Regions from separate parts of the Homo sapiens genome. Here region 2 is linked to region 1. Evidence: fine-mapped expression QTL. A gene starts in region 1. The other region holds a variant in brackets. All regions are shown on one strand. Distances are between the middles of the regions.

Region 1 (5,392 bases):
CCACCTGGGAACTTAATAGGCACGTAATGAATCAGATGTAATGAATCAGAAACTCGAAGGATAGGGCCCAGCAATCTGTGTTGTAACAAGCCCTTCTGGAGTGTCTCTTGTATGCTAAATTTAAGGGCCTAAACTAGAGAAACTGGTGCAGGTGGTAACTCTTCTCATGTGAATCGGCTCACCTAATGCCTCATGCAAAATTGCTACTTTAAACAGTCTTTCTCAGTTTTAATATATTATTTACACTCTTTGCAGTGAAGTTAGCAGTGATAATGTCAAGTTTTTCAGCTGAAATTTACTATGAAGACTGTATCTTCTTAACAAAATATCCTTTAACTCGTGATATTTTTTTCTGCCTCCCATTATCAAAGTTTTTCTTTCTGCGATACCTACCATGGGTTAGCCTTTAACTATGCTGTGTCAACTGTATGTGGGGATTATACTTACAATTAAAACTTGTATTTGACATACGAATGGGACTCAAGGAAATCAAAACTCTTCTTGGAAACAGTAGGAACATCTGAGCCAGTAATTAACAAACGTTGATTGCCAAGGAAATTCAAACCAAGGTTTAATAAGGAAGGAATTCTTGTAAAAATAGACATAATAGCTATATGTAAAAATAAGAATATCTCTCATGTATAAGGAATTTTTATGTTTTGTGTAGAATTCTAGAGAGTGAAAGTTATGAGTACTGATATATGATTAGTATGTTGAAGCTATTACAATATGAAGTTTGTCTGAAAATAGACTAGGCTATCCTGTGAGGTGAAGAGTTTCCTGTAGTTAGGGGTATTTAAGCCACATCAAATTGTGGGTCGATTGGGTGGTCTAGACCCTTCCTCCTCAAGTGTAGTACCATCTGGGAGTCATTAGAAGGGTAGAATTTCAGGTTTCACCCCATTCCTGGTGAATCAGTATCTACAACTTAACAAGATCCATGGATGATCTGTATGCACATTATGTCTGAGAAATAGTGCTCCAGTTGACATCTAATGAATTTTCGTATTATTTTTATACTTCTTATAGGATTGTGTTGTGTTGTAAAATTTAAATAACAGTCTAGAATAGAAGTTGGGTAAATACATGAGCTTTACCCCACTTTCCATTGTAAAGTCGCTAACTGAATTAAATACTTCCCTCAGAAACAAAGATTGTTTCTTGGATATTGTAGTTAATTTTAAGTGAACAGTTATTTACATACTAGTTCTTTGTTAACTTTGGACTCTTGGCGTTACACAAAAGTAAAACACGTCTTTTGGCTTTCGTGTAGCACACTCAGAATATTTTCAGTAACCCCCAAAATATATTCAGTGTTTAATCCTCCAATTCCTTCATGCATGTCCTCTTCATTTTCACCAAACCCAGCAGGATTCGTGACTCTCCCTCACAGAAACGTTCCCTTTCTGCTCAGAGTAGGTACTGATTTTGTCTCCTGCTTCCTCAGTCTGTATGAATGGACAGCAGCAACGGAAAGAAAAGAGGGTAGGTAAAGGGAGGTGGAGATATAAGGGGGACTGGAGCGCGATGGAGAGACCAGACTCTGCTCAAAGCTAAAATTTACTCGGGCAGGGAATACTTAACATACAATTCCCATTACCAAAACAATATGAATGAAGAAGAACTGAAGAGGTAATGAGAAATGACAGATGCCGCCACACCCTAGATTGGCTCAGGTCCCTACAACCATGACTACCATGCCCTGGCCCAGTGGGAAGAAAGCTGCTTAAAGAAATGACAAGCACAGAAGACCGGGGAGCCAAAAGGTGCCCAAGTCCGTTCCCATCCCCACCAGCGCAGGCTGACACAAGCGAAGGCTGTAGAGCCCATTGTGTGAAAGAAGCCCAGGCGGGGAAGCGTGTGCCCCCTTCCCACTTTGCCCATCCCTGGCCCTCGCCTTCGCAGGGGGCACTGGGAGCAGAGCGAGCCTCGGCAGCCCGGGAGCGGCTCTGGGGGAGACGAGTGTATCCGCGGGCGCGTGTGCGTGAGGAGGAGAGCAAAGACGTGATTACTTCAGAATTTATTTAAGGGCCGGTGGAAACCACTGCAGCAGCTTCCAGGGGAAGCCCTTGTTCCAGAGGAAGAGGAGGTGGTGGCTGCCAAGGAGGAGGAGGGGAGGAGACGGAGGAGGAGGAGTAGCAGCCACCGCACGAGGCAAGTGAGGAGAGAAGATGCTGTAGCGTCCTCACCGGCTGCCAGCAGGTTGGTTCTTCCGGCCAATTGAAGCAAGCAAAGAGGCTTGCAGAAAGGCCGGGAGGAGAAAAATGGGTGTGTGTGCTGTGGCGGCGGGGGGGCGGCGGGGGGGAGGGAAGGGGGGCCGGGGGACGGCGTGGGGTGATGTTTGCCTTTCCAGAGAAAAAGCGCCTCCTTTAAGTGAAACGAGACACGGGAGCGCGCGGAAACAGGCTGGGGGCCAGGAGGAGACCTGTCCTGCTTTTTGCATCCCTAGGGACTCGTTTTCCTTTAGGTTTCTAACTCCCAGGGTTAGCCTTAAACTCCAGAGGGGCTCCAGGAGGGGAGACTGGGTGGAGAACTTCTCTCCCAGATACTTCTCACGCCTTTTCTCCAAGCTTTCTTTTGGAGGGACGCCCCACACACCCCGGGTGGCCCGGGCGCGGAGGGGGAGCGGCGCCGCGTGGTTAAGTTTCTGAAAGTCAAACCCAGTCCCCGGTCTCCGGTCTCCGCCCCGGGGCTCCAGCTGCACGCGGGGAGCTGCGGCTGTTCTGGCAAAGGGGCCGCGGCTGCTTTAAGAGCCGCCTCCCCCTCTCCTCCTTTGACAATGGTCTGAACCGAGCTTTGCTTCCCAAAGCAAAATTTGTAATATGCCATTTTTCCGATGGACGCTTCTCCTTTTGGCTGCTGACGGAGCCACGGGAAGATGCCGAGCTCCTGCCACGCCACCGGGCCGGGGCACGTTCCGGGAGGGCGCCGGGGCACGCGTGTGTCTGAGCTGCCTTTCTCCTCCCGTTGCTAGGGAAATGGTCCAGGAGTGCTGGGTGTGAGCCTCCCTTCTCCTCAAGCCGGAGACTGCGGTTGTCATTGATCAATTGAAGAAGCAAGGACCCGAAATCACAGACATTAGGTACAGAAGCTGTCTTTGAGTTTTACTGTCTCCTTTCGCTGTATTTTTTGACCACCTCCCCGGCCCCACCCCGCCCCCAGGGAAGATGAGATGCAAATTCCTCCTTGTTGATTACCGTTAGGTGCCTTTTGCTTTCACCTCATCCTCTCCATCTCCTATCTCTCTACCTCCTGCCTACTTGGCTGTGTCCTGTTGGGCAGGATGAACAATTTTAGTGTGGAAATGATGAAGTCAACTTCTTCAAGGTGGTGGGGGGTGTGGCTGAGAGATAACTGTCCAGTAGTGTGGGTTGAGCTGGCTCTGGCTGTCCGTAAATGCACTAGGGTAAAGAAAGTGTAAAATGTGTCCATTAAAGGTGATAATCATATTTCCCGAGGACAGAGGCTTTCAAAGAGTTAAATAGGAGGGAGAATATTCATGTAATGTAATCAGACAATGGCTAGGATTTCTCTCACTGAATTACTCCTTGTAGGTTAACTGAGGTGGAGCTGGGATGGTTCTTAAGACTAAATGTTTTCAGAAGAAACTCACTATGGATAATAATTACATTCTTACCTCTAGTAGGGCCGAATTCCTAGTGATATGATTAAATAAAGTCATTTGTTGACAGAAAAAAGAAAAAAAGCTTTTTGTAGCACTCTCATATCTGAAGAGGTACTGCTTGGATGGCATATATTGTTAAGGAACACATTGGATCTTGAAAGCCCTTGAGTGAGGACTCCAGTGGGCATTCAAACTTTTATTTTGAAATCTGAGAAATTTAAAAGACAGTCAAGGCTATGTGCTAAGAATAAAGGAGTTATTTTCCTGATATAAAATTCTTCCGGCTAAATTTAAGCACTGGGATAATTAAGCCAATCAGATTTATTATTACTTTTTTTCTTTCTCAACAAAATTAACAATGTCTCTGACTAGGTTTCAAAACCTTCAGTAATTTAATGAGGAAAGCATCAATATCTAGATGAAGATAACATAATTTATATATCAAATTGACTTTGAGGGGGGAATGATGAAAAAGCAAATATCAAGGCAAATTGTTAAAATGCCCTTTCTGGCTTTTCAGAAATTATGTGATGAATGCAGTTTTTAGTATTGATACTGATTATAAAAGTTAAAAGTGATGTATCTGGGTGAAACGCACTAGACATTGAATGACCATAGCCTTCCGGACTGTGCAAGCTGCTTCAGATGTCATCCATTTTTTAAAAGGGTGTTTAACTCTTATATTGAATATATATCTTTAATTGCTTTTAATACTTAAAATGTGCAAAATGTGCATTTAAGAAATGTTATACTGCATTTTAAGGATTAATCAAATATTTTGTAATTTATGTTAGAATCTGAATTCTAATGAAAGAAACTAAGCTAGTTCATGAAAGTGGCCTTATTTTTTTGTAGACTATTTTTTTCTAATTTTGATAAGAAGACTTTGGATTTACTCATTTGGGTTGACTGCAAGGTATAAGCAGCATATATTCATCTTATTTCCTAAGTAAATTTTGCATAATTTGATTTTTATAAATTGGATTTGAAGAGTTCAAAAGTATCTACTAGAATTAAACCTTTACAGCAGCAGAATGAGTCGTAAAGGTAAAATATTGTTTCTACAAAGATTAATGTTGATCACTTTATAATAGAAATTAATACTTACATTTGTAATTGCCCTTTATATGTTTTGCTGTGTGTTCTCAGTCAGGTAACCTATTATATATTTTCTTTTTTTTCCTCTAAGCATAGATTATTGGCCCTCTTTCATGAAAGAGAGAACTAAAGTTTTAACATGTAAAGTAACTTGTCCTGGTTCACCTGCCTTAGGAGTGGAATCAAATCAAGTTCTTTTGAGTGTAGATTTAATAGACTTTCTAAGTCCCTAAGCCACTTTTCATCATAGCATCTTTTGACTAAATCGAAGACTACCTTTAATGTTGATTTAAGACCCTAAAGTTTGTGAATGTTTATATCCCATGGTAACAATGAGGGATTGTTAGGATATTATTTTCAGGTGAAAATTATATTGGGGTATTCACTGCTGTTATGCTTTGCCTTGGAATTTAAAGTTGTTCTGAGTGATTCAGGGTGGAAAGGGATTAATAACTTTCATTCAAGAAGGACGTAATTTAAAATATAGATTTAAGAATTTAAATCTATAGGTAACCCTAACGTTGTGAGTGTTTGGGCACAAATTGTCATGATGCTATGATTTGCTCTCCCAGTACTTTGTTTTAACCTTAAATGTCAAAAGTAAACATATTGGCTCCTGGTAATCATTTCTCAGAATGACATAGCGGCTCAATGTGTAGGTTTCATGCA
Region 2 (5,392 bases), 25 kb after region 1:
GTACATGTCTGTAGTCCCAGCTGCTGGGGAGGCAGAGGCAAGAGAATCCCTTGAGTCCAGGAGTTTGAGGTTACAGTGAACTGATCACACCACTGCACTCCAACCTGGGTGACAGACAGAGACTTTGTCTAAAAAACAAAGAAAAGATAGCTTAAAATGATTTTCTTAAAATAAACATGTCCATTTCTATGACAAAATAAGCAGTTACCATTTTCAATTTTTTTTCTGGTGTACTCCTAGTCTTGTTATATATTCCTTTGAGTATTCTAGATGTCAGTAATTGTCCCAACGGTGTTGAAAAACTCTTACTTCCTCCGGCGTTTCCTCCTTCAAATGCATCCCCTTCACAGCTGCAGAGTTATCTGTTTAAAATACAAATCTGACTGTGCTACTGCCTTTATTAAAATCTGACTGTGTTACTGCCTTTATTAAAATGCGTCTATGTCCACAAATAAACCCAACAGAATGAATAAACCAATTCAGCAAGGTCACAGGATAAAAGATAAACATACATAAATAAATTGTACTTTGGTACAGTATCGAAGAATGATCAAAAATGAAGTTAAAACAACTCCATCTATAATAGCATCTAAAATAATGAAATACTTAAGAGTAAATTAAACAAAATACATGCAAGGCTTGTATAGTGAAGACTTTAAGAGAAATGTAAAAATATCTAAACAAATGTAGAGACATTCATGTTTTAAAATATTCAATATTATTAAGATGTCATATATGCCCAAATTTGTCTATAAATTCAACACAGTTCTATTAAAATGTCAGCAGCCTTTTATACAGGAAGGGATGAGGTGATTTTAATATTTATATAGAAAGACAAAGGACCAAGGATAATTAAAACAATCTTGAAAAACATTAACAAAATTGGAGAATTTAACATTTACTGATTTCAAAACTTACTCTAAAAGGACAGTAAACAGGTTAGTTTAAGGATAGACATATAGAGCAAGTATAATGATAGAGAGTACAAGAATAACCCCGTAGATTTATGGTCAATTGATTTTCAACAATTATACCAATTCAATGTGGAGAAGATAGTCTTTTCAACAAATTAGGCTAGGATGATTGGCTATTCAAATGCACAAAGACTAATTTAGAACCTTACCAAACATCATACACAAAAATTGACTCAAAGTGGCCCATAGACCAATATGTAAGAGCAAAACGATACACTCTGCAGAAGAAAATAATAGGAAAACATTGTTGAAACCTTGGATTAGGCAAATATTTCTTAAACATGGCACTAAAAGTACAATCCACAAAAAAAATTATAAATAGAACTTCATCAAAATAAAAAAAACTTATACTTCAAAATAGTAAGAAAATGAAAAATACTAAGATAACTAGGAGAAAATGCTTTCAAAACATATCTCTGTTAAAGGACATATATTCTGAATTTATAAAGAACTCTCACAAGTCAATAAGAAGAGGAAAACCCAATTAAAAAATGGGTAAACAATTTGCATAGACATTTCATCAGTGATGGTAAATAGATGTCAATAAGCAGATGAAGATATGCTCAATCTCTGTAGTCATTAGGAATTTCAAATTAAAACCACATTTCACACCATCTAGAATTTTTATAATCAAAAGATAATACCCAGAATTAGAGACATTGTGGTGAATTAAGAACTTTCATACATTGCTAATTGGCATGTAATATGGTACAACTACCATAAAAATAATCTAGTAGTTTATTTAATTAAAAAAATTTACTCCTAGAAATCTAACCAAGGGAAATGAAAACATATTTTCATGTATATCCTGTTCACAAATGTTCATAGCAGCATTATTCATAATAACAAATATCCCTCAGGTGGTAAAGAAAATATTGTGTATTCATGCAATGAAATGCTATTCAGCAATAAGTAACAAACTATCAGCACTACAACAAGAATGAAACTTTAAAAATCATCATGCTAAATGAAGGAAGCCCATCATAAAAGATTACATATTACATGATTCCTTATTCATGAAATACCCAGAAAAGTCAGAGCTATAAGATGGAAAGGAGATTAAAGTTTGCCTACGGCTGGAGGTGGGCATAGGAAGTGACAGCAAATGGGTAGGGATCTTTTTGGGAGACTTAAAAGTGGATTGTTGTGATGATTACACACCTCTATACATTTATTAAAATCATAGCATTCTACACTAAACACAAAGGAATTTTGTGATATGTAAATTATTTTTCAATTAAGATGTTAAAAAATAACTTTCCATGGCTCCCAATCACCTAGAGAAGTTTTCACAAGCTTGACTGAAAAGGAGAATTGCTCAAAGTGCTTGTTGACAATGACATCTTCTCTGGAAATTTTGATTTTATACTTTTAACAATC[A/T]CCTTAGGTAATTCATAGAATTACATTTGTAAAATGCTAATCTGGAAAATAAATGATTAAGCTTCTTATTATGTCTTCAAGCCTGACCTCTAATCTGCCTCTCTCCCCCTTTGTATTCTTCTATTCTGTCACATAACTTAAAATACAAGTCTAAACTGGTTATTAATGATGGCTTGCTTAGTGTGATTGTATGCATTTTTTTTCTGCAAATGCAATGTAATCTCTCAGAGCAAAGAGATTTTTTCCTTATATGTGCATATCTTCCCAAACTACAAACACAGTGCTGTGTGAGCCTTTATTTAGACTCAACAATTGTTAGGTGTTTGAAGAGGTTCACCTGGGGTTAGAGACAAACTCCAACTGTGAGCTCCACAGCACCTATCACTTTCACCACAGCATTCTCAGATTTGGGCACAATATGCACCCTGAAATAGGAAACAGTGGTAATATGAGACCATGATTATCTGGGACAGGTGCTGATTATCTTCTGCATTCCTGTGCTCATTGGTCTTACACATTTTCAGAAGACACAGCCCTCAAATCAGAAGTTTTAAATAAAATATGTGTGTAGCAGGCACGTTATCTAGTTTATGAGAATACAAAAGATAGACATGTAGGTTATCCTGGTGGCAATGTAACATGTAGGTTACAGGATAAAATGTTGCTTATCCTGATGGCTTATAGAAACAAAAAAAGATGATGAAAAATGCTTCTCCCTTTCAGGAATGCTTAGCTTATTTGAGGTGACTGATGATTAAACCAATATTTACACTTCTATGTGATAGAAATATGACAATGATAGAAGTATGACAGAAAATGAATAAGAGCAAAGAACTCAGTGTAGTAGAATAGGAAGAAGCATCTGTTGATCAATATATTCATTGCCTCTTTAAATATTTTGTTTTATCTTCATAAGAGTTGTAAAAGCAATCTCTTTAATTCCATTTTATATATAGATAAAATCTCAGAAAAGTATGTTTCCTATTCTCACATTACTGGTAAGTGTCAGAGACAAGATTTAAATTTAAGATTCCCTCATTTTATTTTATTATTTTTTATTGTGGTAAGAACACTTAACATGAGATCTACCCTCTTAACAAAATTTTAAGTGCACAATACAGTATTAACTATAGGCTCAATGGTGTACAGCAGATCTCTTGAACTTATTCATACTGCATAACTGAAAATTTACATCCATTGTACTTTTAAAACGCAATCTTCCTTAAAGCATTTAAGATTTTAGAGTCAAAGAAAGTCAAGAACAAGGATTAAACACTTGATGCGTACTAGTTGCTTTATATTTCTGGAGAAGTTATTTAACCTAAAACCTAAAAAGAGAGATATTCTTAAGAACTATGTCTCACACTTTAAAACTGGAATTTTATGTACTTTACCATCATAAACTTAACCATAATATATATATTTCTACTATATAGAGACAATAAAAGATTGTTGTATTAATTTATAAAATATTTCAGTAATAAATTTATCAAAAATACAAGGCCAGACGTAACTAAGAAAGTTGTTTGCTTTTTACTGGTCTGCTCTAAGTTAATTTTCAACACAGTTTATAATACCTATTTTGGTGATTTTCTACTTTGAATTACATATTGACTGTGTTTAATTTTGGGTCTGTTCTTGGAAGTTGTTTCCTTGTACTGCTTTTTTTGTGTGCTTTGTAGAAAATATTCAAGTTTCTGCATCTATAATTACTTAAAGTTCAATTTAGGTCGATGGTCTTTATCATCTTTTACACTAAGAGAAAGATGCTATTCTCAAAATTAGAAGCATACTATATGTAATTTTATACACTGCATTTTCACTTAACATATCATGAGCAATTATCTATGTCATTAATTTTTTATTTCCTCTTTTTCCTTCCTTGATATTATTTTGCTTTTTTGCTTTGGCTGTTGAAATGGGTTTTGTTGCCTTTTCTCTTCTGCAGTATATGTAAGAAATACACATTGTTTGTAACTAAACTAGTGGAACCTGTTGTGTGTGTGAGTGTTTTTTTTTTTTTTTTAAAAAAAAACATCATCCATATTTCTTTATTTGGTATAATCAGGAAAGTAATCATTCCATCTTCTGGTCCAACATATAAAGAGGAAGAATTGAATACTTCTCTGTCCTTGCTCTTTTCCCCACACTGGACTTTCCAATTTGTATTAACATAAAGTGTTATTTATTATTAAAAACTTTTATGCGGTATTTTTACTGCAAAATCCAGTCTAAAGTTGCATTCAGATTTGAAATTAAGCTATTAGCAATTATTTAAATGCTATTAATATGTTCAATTTGAATGATTCTATCATTCTTGTAGTCACCATTTGTCCATTTTTATATTTTACATTTGATTTCATCACTTTGCCTGAAGGAATGTATTTCTAAGTAAGCATTTTAAGAAAGATATTTGAGTGGTGATACATTTTCTGAGCCCTTACACATATGATATTTTCTAATTACTTTATATATTGTCACAGTCCATGTTATATTCACATGTGTTTCTCATATCATCCTGTGACATAGGCTTGAAGAATTAACTTTCATCTTTTCATCATGCTTTCTTTAATACAATTATTTAGAACTCCCCACCCACCCCTGCACTGCTGACTCTTTAGTGACTAGAATCAGAACCAGAATTGATAGCTCATGTTTAAGAGCTTGCTGAACTCCAGGCATAGTTTTAAGGACTTTACATATATAACAAACTTAATCTGAACCACCATTCTATGACTAGAGGTACTATTATTATTCCCCTTTTACAGATAAGGAAACTGACATAGAGGGATTAACTCACCTTCTCTAGTTTGCAAAGATAGTATATGGCAGAGTTCCAATTCTACCCAAGGTTGTCTGTTTTCTGAACCCTCACATTAACCAGCACTCTAAATTGATATACTCATATAATGATATATCACTTTTAATACTATTTCAACCTTATATATTTTTAATTAACTGAAGTGTCTTTAAAAGCAAATGTTTAGATTTTTATGGTGAGATATAAGCACAGTAAGGCTCTTTTGTGAAACTTGAGA

Evidence for each region. PIP is the estimated chance that this variant, and not a neighbour inherited with it, causes the effect.
Region 2: its variant is the best candidate, but not a certain one, in a credible set for the expression of PPFIA2 in lung (TOPMed, PIP 0.64).

Annotation. Positions count from the first base shown.
Region 1 is chr12:81,756,090-81,761,481 of GRCh38, reverse strand. It overlaps PPFIA2 (PPFI scaffold protein A2), which reads left to right and starts at 2,132. Exons shown (of 33, transcript NM_003625.5): 1 at 2,132-2,202; 2 at 2,975-3,082. RefSeq lists an enhancer at 2,334-3,272.
Region 2 is chr12:81,731,502-81,736,893 of GRCh38, reverse strand. The region is part of intron 3 of PPFIA2 (PPFI scaffold protein A2); the gene reads left to right. Among named protein-coding and RNA genes, the nearest start is that of PPFIA2, 25 kb to the left of the region's middle. The variant A/T (reference allele first, on the strand shown) is at 2,355.